2 separate regions of the Homo sapiens genome follow, and region 2 is linked to region 1. The links come from fine-mapping of genetic effects on gene expression. Tissue or cell type: testis. Region 1 holds a variant in brackets; the other region holds the start of a gene. All regions are shown on one strand. Distances are between the middles of the regions.

What was found. PIP is the estimated chance that this variant, and not a neighbour inherited with it, causes the effect.
Region 2: it holds the start of TBC1D15, and the variant in region 1 is fine-mapped to the expression of TBC1D15 in testis (GTEx, PIP 0.97).

Annotation. Positions count from the first base shown.
Region 1 is chr12:71,910,261-71,918,369 of GRCh38, reverse strand. TBC1D15 (TBC1 domain family member 15) reads right to left here. Exons shown (of 17, transcript NM_001146213.3): 12 at 4,444-4,544; 13 at 573-672. Among named protein-coding and RNA genes, the nearest start is that of TPH2, 25 kb to the left of the region's middle. The variant T/C (reference allele first, on the strand shown) is at 4,534.
Region 2 is chr12:71,836,238-71,844,346 of GRCh38, reverse strand. It overlaps TBC1D15 (TBC1 domain family member 15), which reads right to left and starts at 4,588. Exons shown (of 17, transcript NM_001146213.3): 1 at 4,536-4,588. The coding sequence starts at 4,565.

The DNA of each region.
Region 1 (8,109 bases):
TATGCATCTTAGGCAATTCAAGGCCCTATACATTTGTCTTCTACGTTAAGGAATCATTTCAAACTTGAAGGCTGACTTCTTTTTAAAAACTAACAAATAATACATTTTACGAATCAAGTTTAAGGCAGAATTATACAAAGAGAGTTTGGTTCCACATTTTTATGGAACCGAAGAAAGTGCAATAGAGTATATATGTCTTTAAGTTCTTTTTTATTGAGACAGTGTCTTGCTATGTCACCCAGGTCGGAGTGCAGTGGAGTGATCCCAGTTCACTGTAGCCTCAACCTCCTCGGCTCAAGTAATCCTCCCACCTCAGCCTCTTGAGTGGCTGGGACTACAGGCATGCATCACCACAGCCAGCATTTTTTTTTCCTTGTAGAGATGGGGTCTCACTGTGCTAGCCAGGCTAGTCTCAAACTCCTGGGTGCAAGTAATCCTCCCTCCTTGGCTTCCAAAGTGCTGGGATTATAGGCATGAGCCACTGCACCTGGCTTCTTTAAAGAGTTCTTTACATTTTTTTCTATGCATTACTCTACAATTTGCTGGGTATAGTTCTGATTCACTAAACTTACCTAAGTAACTGCAAAATCCACTGTCTAACAATCGAAGTAAGGTACTCAGCTGAATTAGCTGGGTCTTCATGCCTTGCATTTGTTCTTCAAAATTCTGATGCTTTAAAAGGAAATAATTGTTACAAGTAATATTTAATAAATATTTTATAGTACATAATGACTGATAACTAAAACATGATGTCTAAGGACAAATGCTGAACTTATACCACACTGGTAATCTTAAAAAATGCGTAACTAACCAAAAATCTAACGTAACACTAAAAGGGAGGGTAAAGAGAAAGAATCCTTGCTCTCAAAACTAAGGATTATTTTTTCCTCTATTCATTTGACTTAGATAAAGAAGAATGCAGACATAGCAACTGCAGACTGACTATTTATTTCTTACACAGCATAAAAGACTTGGTGAAAGAAACACACATTTGGGAAATAAATATTTATCAAATTCTTTCCATTGTTAAATATTCCTTCAAATTATACATAATAAAATTAATTTTAGTTTTAGTATGTATTTCATTTTAAAGAATTACTTTACATTGGAGAATCTGTAAAGCCAAAACCATTTTCAGGACAATACTAAAACATTATCTGGATTTCATACTTAAATTCTTTCACAAGTGCAAAGGCTGTATGATGTGTGATACTCCAAAAGACTGAACACAGAAGCAAATATGAAAATTCAGCTGTCTTCTATTAAACCAGACATTTTTAAAAATGAAAAATTTAAAACAATCTCTTGTGTCGGTAAATTTTTCATTAGGAAAGGTTACTTTTCATTAAAAAAAAGTGATCTATGTTAAGGTAGAATGTGTTGTTATTTAATGAATTAATAAATAAATGAATACAAGTTTCTCAGTATTAATTTTTCACATAAACATCAACAGATATAACCCACATAAACAAAAACTCTTTCAGGTCTTCAATAATATTGGAGAGTGTGAAGGGGCCCTGAGGTCACAAAGTTTGGGAACTGCTGGGGTTCATATGCTTTAAAGAAACTTCATAGTTGAGTAGACTCCCTACCAACACCTGAGTCAAGGGGCCAGAAGGCACCAAAACTGATGCTCTGAAAGGCTTCTTAAATGATTTGGATCCCTTTAACTCATATGTCCCGATCCCTCTGTGGTAACCTACCGCCCTAACCCTAGTGAAAGCCTTAGAAAAACATTTCCTCCTTCACACTTACTTTTTCACTTTTACAGTACAATAGTGCTTTATTAGAACTATCATATTAGAAACAATTCATTCTTAAAAAAAATTTAAGTCTATTAATTCTCAATAAGCTGTTTCTCTTTAATGAATTTTAAAAACCAGTTTATTAATAGACTAACTCAAGGCTTTAGGATATAGTTCCTCCACATTTACCAGAGAGATCTATAGAGAAGGGGCAGAATCAACTCTGATTAACAGGATCATTTTTGCTGTGACACAGTCAAAGACTAGAGCTGATCTGGGAATACCAACATGGCATAGACATTTGCTACCCACTCTGCTGTAAAAAAGAAACATGTCCATAATGACAGACACCATATTCGAAAAAGTGGTTACTCCTGGAGAAGGGAGAGTGGGATCAACAATGGATATACAAAGGGCTTCAAATGTGTCTGTAAATAAATGTGTCTGTATGGGGCAGGGGAGGGGGAGATGGAGAGGAGAAAGGAATTAAAACTATATGGCAAAATGGATGATGGGTATAACAAAGTTCATCAGATCACTTGTACTTTGTATTTCCATGATAATAGACAAAGTCTATGCCTAGACCTACATTAGATGCAAGTAAACATCAACAAAAGTAAATTTACAGACGTTAGGTTCAGCCACCACAAAGGTAGTACAAACTTACATGAAGTAAAGCTATAAAACAGAAACACAGAATCAAGAAACAGCAGCACAGATTTAGGGACATCAAACAAGGGCAATGCAGTGAAAAACAATCATACAGGTTATTTTGATTGCCATATATTTCCCTCTCATTCAAATATTATGAAAGAAAAGATGTTAGCAGACAACATAATCATAAGATATCTTTTTTAGAATAAAGACTAGAAAAATCCCCAGAACATCCTTAATGGAAAAGGCAAACACAGAGAGCATTTACTGTGAAAATGACAGAACAAAGAAACTGAACCTTCATACACAAAAAATGACGGACTGTAAAGTGTTTATTACACATGTTCAGAAGGTAGTCTTTACATATGAGACCTATATACACACGTCTGTATGCATGTGTGTATGTGGCATTATATGTCAATATATATTTACATGCCAATATTGGATTAGTTTTATTGAAAACTTATTGCATGATACTAAATGCAGTATGTTCATCTTAGTTGTGTTTTTTTTTTTTTTTTTAGAATATCTACTATAGCAATTTAAACTAATCACTGGGGAAAGATTCACATGTTTATTCTACAAAAACCCGTTGAACAACCTCATGTCAGGCATTAGGAAAATTCTGGTATGCTACCAGTGAAACAAGATATAATCCCTTTTATCAAGGAACATACTAGCTCTGGTGAAAAGAGGATAAACAACAAAAACACAAGGAAGGCAGACAACAGTTTTTATGTAATTAGTATCAGCTGTACAGACCTTTATAACAAATGCCTCAGGTTTCTAGAGCACTTGGGAGTAAATGGAACTAAGAAGGTAGACAAATCAATCAAAAAAGGAAGGAAGACAAACTATGACATTACCAAATTACTGCATTGATAATCCTTCCAAATAGTCAAAAAAAATTAATTTATGGCAAAAAACCAATTTGAATATTCATGAATTTAATGTAAAAGAACATTTTAAATCTATCAAATCTTACCAAGTATACATTTAGAAAAAAACTGAAAGAAGCAAAAACAAGTTGAATCTATGGACAAGAGATTTGGGGAAATAGCCACAAGCAGGGAAAATTTGAAGGAGAAAGAAAAATAGGCAAGCAAAAGGGAAAGAATAGAAGTAAAGAAAAAAGGAGAAGGGTACCACTTCCAAATTTCACATTTGTATCCCAGAAACTCTGAGTTAAACCCTGTATTACAGGAAAATATTTCAGATGGTTAGATTCAAAATGTTTATCCCTTGCAAGCAAGCCAGCCATTTCAATATCCAACATAAAGGCCCAGCATCCAGTATGTTAGTGTTATTTTGAAAAAACACAGCAACCTCTATGTAGTCAGGTCTTTGGACTTCATCTGCCTTTATCTAGTCTCACCCCTTCTGCTTTTATTTTTCTGAGATTGCTTGAAGAGACTTTTCTTTTATTTTCCTGTCAATATTCTCTGCACTATTATCCTAGAACTCTGTCTCAAAGATTTAACAATGATAATAGATAAAATGTTCTTTGTACTAACATGTATATATAGACAGTTCAATTCTAATAATCACATACTTCTGGGAAAATAACAATGAATTCCTAAGAAAGTGTCAGAGTTACAAATAGTTCAAACACATCTGGAGAAAAATCAGTTACTATAATGACAAAATTCAAAATCTTCACAAAAGGTAAGGATATTACTTGGCATGACTAAGCTTTATCTCTGAAACAGATGATATTAAAGTTCAACTATTCCACAAAATTGAATTCATCTATTTTATCAATATTCTGTAATGACACATGGCTCTTTAGTAGAAAATAAGCATTTACTGATATTAAATCCTGATTATTCCTATACTACAGGCACAAACTATTTCCTGTATTAAAAATACCACCAGTATTTCTAAGCCCTTGAAAGGCTACTAAAAAGAAAAAGTAACAAAAGGCATGAGGTAATTTTTTTAAGTTCCATCATAGTTGGCTAAATATAAAAATCAACCTTATACTATAAAATTATACAACTAAAATTTTAAAAATCAGTTTAATGGAAGGAATCTCTGTTCTTACCATTTGGTCCATGTAAGAGGCAAAGCACCAAAAGGCATCCACTTCATTTTCCATCACATATAAAAGAGGGGAAAGTAAATCACTCATTCC[T/C]TGAACATATCCTAAAAAGAAAAGAAAAAATCATCTCTGAAAACCCAAGTTTTATGTAACCTTCTGCAAGTTGTGCATATCACCACCATTTCGCTTAAAATTGTATCTTTCTCCTTTGCATTTAGAAATTGGTAGACACTGATGTTCACCAAGAAAAGAATATAAATGAAGAGGAGGAACTCTAGTCATAAGTAAGAAAGATGAGTTGTTTTAGATTGAGATGTCAAACAATATATAGCTTCCAGTACGTGTCTCAGTGCAGATACACTATCAAGAGTGGGTAATATTTTTAAAAATAATGTGCAAGAGCATCATGAGAAAGAAGAGGGGTGAAGAGATAATCCAGAGGAACATCAAATGTAAGAGTATACACTCAAAGACAGGTTTAAGAAAGACCAGTCAGAGAAGTAAAGAAAAAAATCAAGCGAGAATAATGTTGCAAAAATTAACAAGAAAGTTGCAAGCCCAGAGTGGTTAGCAATGCCAAACTACCATGAGTAAGCCACATAAAACAAGAACTTTGGGTTCAACTGCTTTAACAATCAGACCTTTAGATTCACATAACAGGAGTTACAAAATTAAGAGCCTCTTTTAAATAGTCATATCTACGTCCTTCTTTCTTTTTTTGTTACTCTCTACACCCAACCAATGCCAGCAACTGGGCTTAACCCAATCAATATTTTGTACCTAAAGTGACCACTTACCTACATGTCTCTTGATATTATTACAATTTCTCAATGGTGACAGTAATAGAGCCCTTGATTAAAAGAAAAACTAGAAAATTAAGGAGTCAGATCCCTCACTTAAAAATAAGAAAAAGTGTTAGTTTTACTTTTTCACCTGAACATGTCAAACTTCTTTTTTACTTCCTCTTATAAAACCCTCAATTATCCTTGTTTTACAATTTTCAAGACTTGAAAAATTTTCAGACTTAAGAGGTTCTTGAACCAATGAAGGGACACGAACTTATACTAAGCCTTTTTACTTAAACGTTATCATTCAACTTCGGTAACTTTTGTGTATTTATTAAAATCATGTAGAAATTTCTTTATTGGTAGCTTGGGAAGTCTGGAAAATAGTCTTTCATTTGCGAATCCAAAGTTTACATTTTTATTCACCAAAATCTATCTGCACTGAAGCCATGTAAAAGTAAATATTTAATGAAAGAGGGAGGAGATAGTTCTGCTATCATATAAATGATACATAATTACACATTACTCTGTTTTGGAGGAAAACTTTAAAAAATGATCTCAGAAAGCAGGTAAACTAAATCTCTTGAGAAAACTCAGATCAAACACACAACAGACAGAAGCACTCAGATCACCTCAGAATCTCCTTACAAATAAAGTTTCAGCTCAATTTGCTGTGAGCCTCTGTCCAATCATCTTACCACCACATCTTTCCACAGTCCTGTTAACCTCACTCTGTCTACACTGCACCCTGTGGGAAAATATAGCTCTACTCAATTTAGCATAAAAGGGCACGTGGGTTCTCATGGAGGACATCCAATTATTACAGTACCAGACAATGAAGTTACCAAGACATTTAGAGAAAAAAGCTAGACAAAAGTGACATACAACAAGGTATCTAAATTTACACAGATGGTTTCTAAAATAATGCACACTTTTAAAAAAAGAATAAGATAGATGGAAGACTAAATTGTTATCATCAGAACTTTCCTACCTGACACAGTGAAATCAATGACAAAAAATAAAGGCTAAACCAATTAAAGCATGAAGGAAATCTAATCTGAATTCAACAAAGTGCAAGAGTACTACGTTACTGAGCCTGACTGTGTATGATCTACATCAGAAATATTTCAAAGTGTGCTATTCAAAAGATTTACAAAGCACCCTTCCTCTCTTAAAAAGTGCTTTATTATTAAGTTATAATGAATAAAAATTCCTAAGAAGCCAATTTAATCCTTTAAGTCTTCAGCTTTCTTATGGAATCACTACATATTTCTTCTGTTAAGTCTTAGCTGAAGCAAGTTGTCAAATTAATCTTCATGTTCTGGTTGCCTTTAATCTATTTTATTTTTTTTATTTTTACAGTTTTTTTAAATTATACTTTAAGTTTTAGGGTACATGTGCACAATGTGCAGGTTAGTTACATATGTATACATGTGCCATGCTGGTGTGCTGCACCCATTAATTCATCATTTAGCATTAGGTATATCTCCTAATGCTATCCCTCCCCCCTCCCCCCACCCCACAACAGTCCCCAGAGTGTGATGTTCCCCTTCCTGTGTCCATGTGTTCTCATTGTTCAATTCCCACCTATAAGTGAGAACATGCGGTGTTTGGTTTTTTGTCCTTGCGATAGTTTACTGAGAATGATGATTTCCAGTTTCATCCATGTCCCTACAAAGGACATGAACTCATCATTTTTTATGGCTGCATAGTATTCCATGGTGTATATGTGCCACATTTTCTTAATCCAGTCTATCATTATTGGACATTTGGATTGGTTCCAAGTCTTTGCTATTGTGAATAGTGCCACAATAAACATACGTGTGCATGTGTCTTTATGGCAGCATGATTTATAGTCCTTTGGGTATATACCCAGTAATGGGATGGCTGGGTCAAATGGTATTTCTAGTTCTAGATGCCTGAGGAATCGCCACACTGACTTCCACAATGGTTGAACTAGTTTACAGTCCCACCAACAGTGTAAAAGTGTTCCTATTTCTCCACATCCTCTCCAGCATCTGTTGTTTCCTGACTTTTTAGTGATTGCCATTCTAACTGGTGTGAGATGGTATCTCACTGTGGTTTTGATTTGCATTTCTCTGATGGCCAGTGATGGTGAGCATTTTTTCGTGTGTTTTTTGGCTGCATAAATGTCTTCTTTTGAGAAGTGTCTGTTCATGTCCTTCGCCCACTTTTTGATGGGGTTGTTTGTTTTTTCTTGTAAATTTGTTCAAATTCATTGTAGATTCTGGATATCAGCCCTTTGTCAGATGAGTAGGTTGTGAAAACCTTCTCCCATTTTGTAGGTTACCTGTTCACTCTGATGGTAGTTTCCTTTGCTGTGCAGAAGCTCTTTAGTTTAATTAGATCCCATTTGTCAGTTTTGGCTTTTGTTGCCATTGCTTTTGGTGTTTTAGACATGAAGTCCTTGCCCATGCCTATGTCCTGAATGGTAAGCATTCTTATACACCAATAACAGACAAACAGAGAGCCAAATCATGAGTGAACTCCCATTCACAATTGCTTCAAAGAGAATAAAATACTTAGGAATCCAACTTACAAGGGATGTGAAGGACCTCTTCAAGGAGAACTACAAACCACTGCTCAATGAAATAAAAGAGGATATAAACAAATGGAAGAACATTCCATGCTCATGGGTAGGAAGAATCAATATCGTGAAAATGGTCATACTGCCCAAGTTAATTTATAGATTCAATGCCATCCCCATCAAGCTACCAATGACTTTCTTCACAGAATTGGAAAAAACTACTTTAAAGTTCATATGGAACCAAAAAAGAGCCTGCATTGCCAAGTCAATCCTAAGCCAAAAGAACAAAGCTGGAGGCATCACACTACCTGATTTCAAACTATACTACAAGGCTAC
Region 2 (8,109 bases), 74 kb after region 1:
AAACAGAGACCAGATCAGATCATAAAGGGCTGCATAAGCCATGCTAAAGAATTTAGGAGTTTGAAATTTATCCTGAAGACAGACAAACGCAACTAGAAATTTGCCTTTTCTAAGCCAATAAAGTGGCTGCAGGGCCAAGAACGAACAGCTGCAGTAATCCAGAGAGGGAGAGACTCATGGTTGCTTGAACTAAGGCAATGGTAGTGGGGATGAGGAAAGGCAGATGGCTTAGAAAGATATTTAGAAGATCAAAATGACAAGACTTCATGACTGATTAGATGTGAGAGGTGAAGGGGAGAACAGTCAAGGACAAAACTGTGTAGATGAGGTTATTTACTGAGAGGGAGAACAGAAAGAAGAAAGCTGAGTTTTATTTGGGATGTGTTAATGAGTAATGACTATGGAACTAAAAAAAATGCACAATACAGGTGGTTGTAAGGGCAATACATCACAGATAGTCTGAAGTGAAGAATGTTTTGAGATATAGAGAATGGTACAACTCTCAAGGAAGAGCAACTGGCAGAACTATTATTGCTTCTCAAGGATATTGGTGTGCCAAGCGAAGTCAGATAGGAGACGTGAATAATTTAAGAGTTGGAGGAGATACACAGTCAGCGCTGCAATGAACCATGATCACACCACTGCACTCCAGCCTGGGTGACAGAGCAAGACTGTCCCAAAAATAAATTAACAATAATAATAATAATAATACAAGTCTGTGTTTAACCACCCTTGTATCCAAAGAACTCAGCACATAGGAGGTACTAAAACGTTTGTTGAACTAAAGAATGCCAGAAAAATTTAAAAATAAGACATACTCCTATTATACCCTAGTTAACTACCATGTTAAAAGATCCAGTCTAGGAAAACAAGTCTCCAGGAAAATCTAGATACTAAGAATATTCATCTTTCTAAAGCACAAAAATTTTATAGGACTATGAGCATATTTAAAAAGAATTGGTTAGGGCCAATTTTAAGCTACAAAATAAATTGTTACTAAAAATGACATCACAAATTCTAATTAAGAAAAAAAAACAGCTGATTTCCCTATTGTTTCAAGTAATTTTCTTTTTCATTTTTTGAAACACAGTATGCCCTTCGCCCAGTCTGAACAAGTGGCACAATCTCAGCTCACTGCACTGGTTTCAAGCGATTCTCCTGCCTTAGCCTCCTGAGTACCTGGGACTACAGGCGTGTACCACCATGCCCGGCTTTTGTATTTTTAGTAAAGACAGAGTTTCACCATGCTGGCCAGGCTGGTCTCAAACTCCCGACCTCAAGTAATCCACCCACCTCAGCCTCCCAAAGTGATGATTACAAGCATGAGCCACCGTGCCCGGCCAGTAATTTTCAATAGAAAGAAATTCTAATACACTAACAGGAAAACCTAGAGTGAATGAAGTGTACTACAATAGGATTTTACAACTCTGAAACAAAAGAGCTATTAATGGACCCATTTCTCCCACTCTAATCCCTCCTCATTTTCTTTTTCTTTTCTTTTTTTTTTTTTTTTTTTGAGACAGGGTCTTGGTCTGTCACCCAAGCTGGAGTGCAGTAGCACCATCATAGCTCACTGCAGCCTCCAAGTCCCAGGCTCAGGCAATCTTCCCACCTCAGCCTCCCAAGTAGCTGGGACAACAGGCACATGTCACCACAACTAGCTAATTTTTTTATTTTTCATAGAGACAGGGTCTAGTTATGTTGCCCAAGCTGGTCTTGAACTCCTGAGCTCAAGTGATCCTCCCACCTCAGCCTCCCAAAGTGCTGGGATTACAGGCCTGAGCCACGGCACCTGGTTCCTCATTTTCTCATACCTTCTTGCTTCTTCCTCTTCACTGAATACCTATTATGTGCCAGAATCTATGTTAGGGGCAGATGAAACATTTCAGGATCTGACCTCATGATGATTAGTTCAGTCTACAGTTTCTAATATATTTACTCATTAATCCTCATACCAAGAATAAAGTAGGTACTGTTATCATATCACAGATGAGGATACTGAAGCACAGAGAGGTTAAGTAATTTTACTGAAGTCGCTTGTAAATGTGTGGAGATAATTTCTGAAACTAGTTTGGTTTCAGAGACCAAGCTCTTAACCATTACCTTTTGCTGCTTCCCTACAAGACAGAGATTAACTTCCTCCATCACTTTCCGAAACTCCAAGTTCAAAGCAAGTAGAGTTTTAAGAAAAGTTACATCCTAGGTGGAGACACTGAGAGACTCTAATTCAACAGAGCTGGTAGCCCACCATCTGTACTTTTATTAAAAAGTATCACGAGTGATTTTTGTGAGCCTTGGTTAACATTCACTCCCCTGGATTTCTAAACTAGAACTCTTAGCTAAAACTTGAAGGGAGAGGGGAGATGAATAAATAAACACACACACACATTTTCTCCCCATCCCCTTTCCTAAAGAAAAAAGATTAGGAAGTAGGGAAGCATAAAGGTATCATGTCTTTTTATGTTACATTAACCAGCTTTCATTATTATTATTATTATGCTGACGATAAAAAAGTGAAGAGTTTTCATTTGCTTTTTAAATCAAGAGATTATCAGGTTTGCGCATTAGAAAAATAACTCCAGTGGTGGTGTAGAGAAGATTAAGGGCAGAGACTGTAGAAAAGGAGTAAAATCAGCCAAGAAATCAAGAATAGAAGCAGACTAAAAGCCTGAACTATGCGCTGATAGTAAAGAAGATGCAGTAAATTTAAGAAACCTCTTAAGGTAAAACTGGTAGGACATGGTTATTGATTAGAGAGTGTTATAGGAATGAATGCCTCCAAGTATGTTTAACATGCAACCAGGTGAAAGATGATGCCATTAAACCAGATCTGAACTTACTGAGAGAAGAACAAGTGGGTTTTGTTGGTCATGATAGTATTACTTGGGAGAGGAGCAGCTTTTGGCATGGAAAACTAGTTTCAGTGGAGTGATGGCAATAGATGTGAATTTGCAGTGAATGAGAATAAATGAGGTTATGAAGCAGAATTACTAAATATAAGTCTCACTTTAAGAAGTCAGACTATGAAAGGTAGTGGCTGCAAAGAGTGAAAAATGTTTTTCATTTCACAACTCTGCTTCATTGCCTCAAGGATTCTTTCAAAATCAATCCAAACCTGAAAGAGGGAGATGTTTAAACGGAAGGGATCCCCTCTTGAAAAGTCCCAGCCTGGATCAGTTTAGATGGAAAATCAAACAGGATAATCTTCAAATACGCAGTAAGTCAAGCAGTATATCAGCATCCACCCTGAATATAAAAAGAAAAAAACTGACAAGACAACCAAGGAGCACGAATAATCCAAAAAAGGATGCCCACCTATCCTTTAAAAGAGCCAGTAGGTACAAGTGTGTAATTTTATGTTTTTTTAAAAAAAAATTTATATAACCCTAACAACTCCAATACAAGAAATAATGATTGGCATCTCCTCCATTCTACAGATAAAGAACGCGAAAAGACAAAAGTCACAATTGCCCAATTTTCCAAGGTCATACTTCAGATTAACAGCAAAACCAAGCCCATATTTGTCATTCAGCCGCCTAGTCTAATACTCCAAACACCAAACCACAAACGCTGTCAAATAATTCAAAATGGGGTAGGGAAAGCAACAGGGAGACATGAGTGAAACTCAAGGAACAGAGGACGCTATCTGCAATGAGTAAACAACCATTAGTGTTCGATGAGTCACTTCAGTTGATTCCAGCTGTTTATGAAATACTCCTGCACTGGGAAATACTATCGGTGGCATATCATAAAGCTGATAGCCCTAACTATGCATAAGATGTGCCCTCGGAACGCGAATAGGCACTATTCGACGAAATCTCCGCACGTAATTCTAGTTTCCAACGAAATTAGGCGTGTCACTGACCACCTCCGTAAACCAGCATGACCAATACTCCTACTGAAATGCCTAGGAAATAAATATTTGGACGCCTTCCTAGACAAGCACAGGATGGTGTAAATCTCCATTTCTCTCAGGAAACACGTCCTGCTGCTCACAACCACCAACCAACTCAGCAGCTTGGTAAAAACAGACCCAATACACTCGTTTCTTCTAAGCGCACAGCTAGCTGCCTAGCATCTATTCAGCTCCTCCCGAAGGAAGCATAAACATCTTCACCAAACTGTAGCAAAGAAGACAGAGGCAAGTCGGGTTAACGCTTCAAAGAGAGAAAAGACGCTGGAGTCAGAAGAGTAGACATAAAGAACTAGAGTCAAGAAACAGTGAATCGGGGGAAAAAAGGAACTAGAGAGCCACCTGTCCCTTAGTAAAGGTAATACGAATAAAAGCCTCTCTGCTCTGGGGCAGAAGAGCGCCGAGGCCTAGCTGGCCTTGGAGCAGTAGCCGGCTCTATAACTCCGCGGCTGAACTGGCATTCTCGGGAAACCAGCTGGTACCACCCAGTCTTCTCCTACAGACGCCACGGGTTGTCCGGACACAGAAAGTCCCTCGTGTCCCTCCCCCAACCAGCTGCCAGGGAGCAAAAGCATCCCCGTCCCAGAGAAAAGCCGAGGTCTTCCTGGAGGCCGTTACCTACCTTCCCGCTCACAACACCCGCCGCCGCCATGTTTCCTGCGCGTGCCTGGTAATGACGTAGCAGAACCTCACGTGTCTCTCGGACATACAACAACATCCGGCAAAACTAGAATAACATCCGGGCGGGAAAAGGGCGGGGAGTGGCGGGAAGGGAGTGGAGGAAAGGAGCCGGGCGGAAAAAAGCCGCCTGACGCGTGCGTGCTGAACTGGGCTCAGAGACGGCTGGGGTGGAGTCTCAGGCCTAACGCTACGCTTGTGCTTGCCCCACGTCCTCCCCAAGGAAGACTGCTAAAATAATGTGTACCTTACTTGTATTGGAGTTTGTCGAGACTCTGAAGCTAGCGCAGGCCACGCCAGTTTGGTGAGATGAAACGAATACCATACTGGAAGCCAGCAAGATTTGTCCTGGTTTTTTGTTGTTGTTGTAGAAAAGGAGTCTCGCTCTGTCGCTCAGGCTGGAGTGCAGTGGCGCGATCTCGGCTCATTGCAGCCTCCGCCACTCGGTTCAAGCGATTCTCAAGCCTCAGCCTCCCGGGTAGCTGGGATTACAGGCGCGCGTCAAACGCCCAGCTAATTTTTAAATTTTTATTAGAGACGAGATTTCGCCAATGTTGCCCAGGCTGGTCTCGAACTCCTGACTTCAGGTGATCCGTCCGCTTCAGCCTTTGCCCAGAGAGCTGGGATTACAGGCTTGAGCCACCGCGCCCAGCCCATTAGCCTGGTTTTGTGGCAGTAGGCAAATCACCAGTGCACTCGAAACCTCAGTTTCTTATAGTAAAATCAAGATAGTGGCGTTGCGGTGAAGATCCAAGAAAGAGCAGCACTAACATGGAGATATCCCAGGCACTATACATGGAGACTTTTCCCCTCTGTATATGAGGTTTCTCTATTTGTCTGGTCACTGCCACTCACACATGACCTCCAGCAAGGTATTTCGATAGGAACTGTGATAATACCACGCCCTCATAGCTGCAGAGCCCAAGGCACATAGTTTATAGCACCTACACATTACTTATTAGCTCTGTGACTTAAAGCAGGTTTCTAAATTTATCAGAGCTTCAGGATGTAAACTGGGAATTACTCCTGCATGGAGTGGTTGTAGGGATTTCATACGACAATACATGTGTGGTAAAATGATTTGTAAAGATACTAAGGTAAGAATTTTACTTGTTCTCAGTGCTGTAAAAGAATGCAGAGAATGATTATATACTACCCCCTTGATAACTCTGGCACAGATCTGGGATTTCCCTAGCTCCGGGGCAGAATAAAAAGTCCCTTTCACCAAAAACACTTGTGTCCATTGAGGTACTTCCGTCTTCACACAGTGGAGAGGGGTTAGAGGCTTTTGAGTTTGGTTGAGGTAGGTGGCAACTAGCTGAACGACAGAAAAGGAGAGTTGCCGGTTATGTGACTACCAGGAACCTAATAGGTGAGGAAAGTGGTGGAACCTTAGGTGGGAATGAATGCGTAGCATATTAGGGAGATTGCGTGCTAGGTATCTGAGATTCCAACCATGACCAAGACCCTTATGCCCAAGCTTGGCAGGGAATCAAGAAAGCAGCTCACCTACAAGGGATGAATGAGGTGGGAAAATGAGAATATTAGCAGTAATCAGCATTGAGTGAAGACTAGAGGGCCTTTTCCAAATGTACTGGACTGAGACTAAGACCCCTAGAACCTTCATATAATCTTGGGTGTGGAGTGGAAAATCCTACTGATGACCCAAATTACATTTTCCACCAGCTCAGAGCATTGGGATGTGGTTAGAGAAAAATTTTAATGTGACATCACATTTCTTACACCCTGTGTTTTAGAGAAAATTTGAAGCCCTTAGCACAGTGCCAGGAATAAAAGGCTCAATAAATGTAGTTATTACTTATATTTTAAAATATAAGTTTGAGAACTACAGGCTTCTCATTGAAAAGCATCATTGGCATCTCAGGTTCATCTGCTACTTCTTGACCTTCTTAAATTTCATCCTACAAGTGTGCCTTAAATAATGGCGCTACCCATGGGCTGGCCTTGGGCCTCTCTTCCTTTTTCTCCAAACACTATTCCTGGGCCGTTATCCTCATATTCTGGCATCAAAATCTCCTATGTACTGATGACTCCCAAATATTCCCAGCCCAAGTCTCTCTTTCCTAAACTCTAGTCCCTGTGTCCACTGCCACTGGACTTCTGACTTGAGTGAGCTAATCATACATCAAAAAAGTATAAGCCTTTACTACTCAAAGTGTATGTGTACAGACCAGCAGCACCAGCATCAGTTGAAAGCTTGTTAGAAATGCAGAATCTAACTGGGCACGGTGGCTCATGCGTGTAATCCCAGCACTTTGGGAGGCCAAGGCAAGCGGATTACTTGAGGCCAGCAGTTCAAGACCAGCCTGGCCAACATGGTAAAACCCTGTCTCTTCTAAAAATACAAAAATTAGCCTGGCGTGTTGGTGCATGCCTGTAGTCCCAGCTGCTCAGGAGGCTGAGCCAGGAGAATCACTTGAACCTGGGAGGCAGAGGTGGAGGTTGCCGTGAGCCAAGATCATGCCACTGCACTCCACCCTGGGCAACAGAGCTAGACTCTGTCAAAAAAGAAAAGAAAAGCAAAGCAGAATCTCAGATCCCATCCCAGAACTACAGAAAAATCTGCATTTTAACAAAAGCCCTGATTTGTGTGTACATTAAACTTTGAGATGCATAGTCTTAAGTGAAACTTTATTTTGCTTTTGTTCTCTGAAAATTAGTACACTTTGCTGAACAAGAGATGTAGCTAGAACAGTTTCTCAAGGAAGTGTTGCTATCATGTGTTACAAATTAATTTGAATCAATTCTCCCATTTAGGAATGGCACAGTTATACATTAATAGAGGAAATAGACCTATTTTCCTTCTTCAATGATATCCTCTGTCTATATGCAAAGGGAAAAAACAAGGTCAGGATTTCAGAAGGGGTTAGTTTCAGGTTTTAATTTTTTACTTTATTAGAGGGAATGATCAGAGTACACTTACATATAGCAAGTGGACAGATTGTTTTAAAGCAGTAGGAGATATGAGATTTAAAGCATATGAGATTTAATGTAAATAAAGTCCTTAAGTTCCCTATAAATTAATGTTTTCATGACAGTAATTTCAGAGCTCCTAGATTCACTCCTATAAACTATATAGTCACTCACTAATTATAATTTATTACTGGCAAAGTTACATAATGCAAAAGAATCTTAATAGTAAATGCCATAAAGAAACCTTAGGCCTAGGGAGGACTTTGAAGATAATCTCCCCAAGTTTTTCAAGTGAAGAAATTGAATGTCTTAGAGTAATACCTTGCAGAAGTCACAAGCTGCTTCATGGCTGAATAGAGACTTCATTCCATATACATGTCTTATTTAGCTGTGCTACATTATCAGCTAAAAGTGATTATTCCTATTTCTGAACTACAGCATTTAATTACTGTTCACTTTGATTCTCTTTCACCTCAGTTTCTGGCTGGCCTATTTGTCTTTTGAGCTTATCCCATGTCCCACTTCATCTATTAAGTTTTCCCCAGCGTTTCCACTAATTGATCTCTACCTCTCCTGAATTCTTA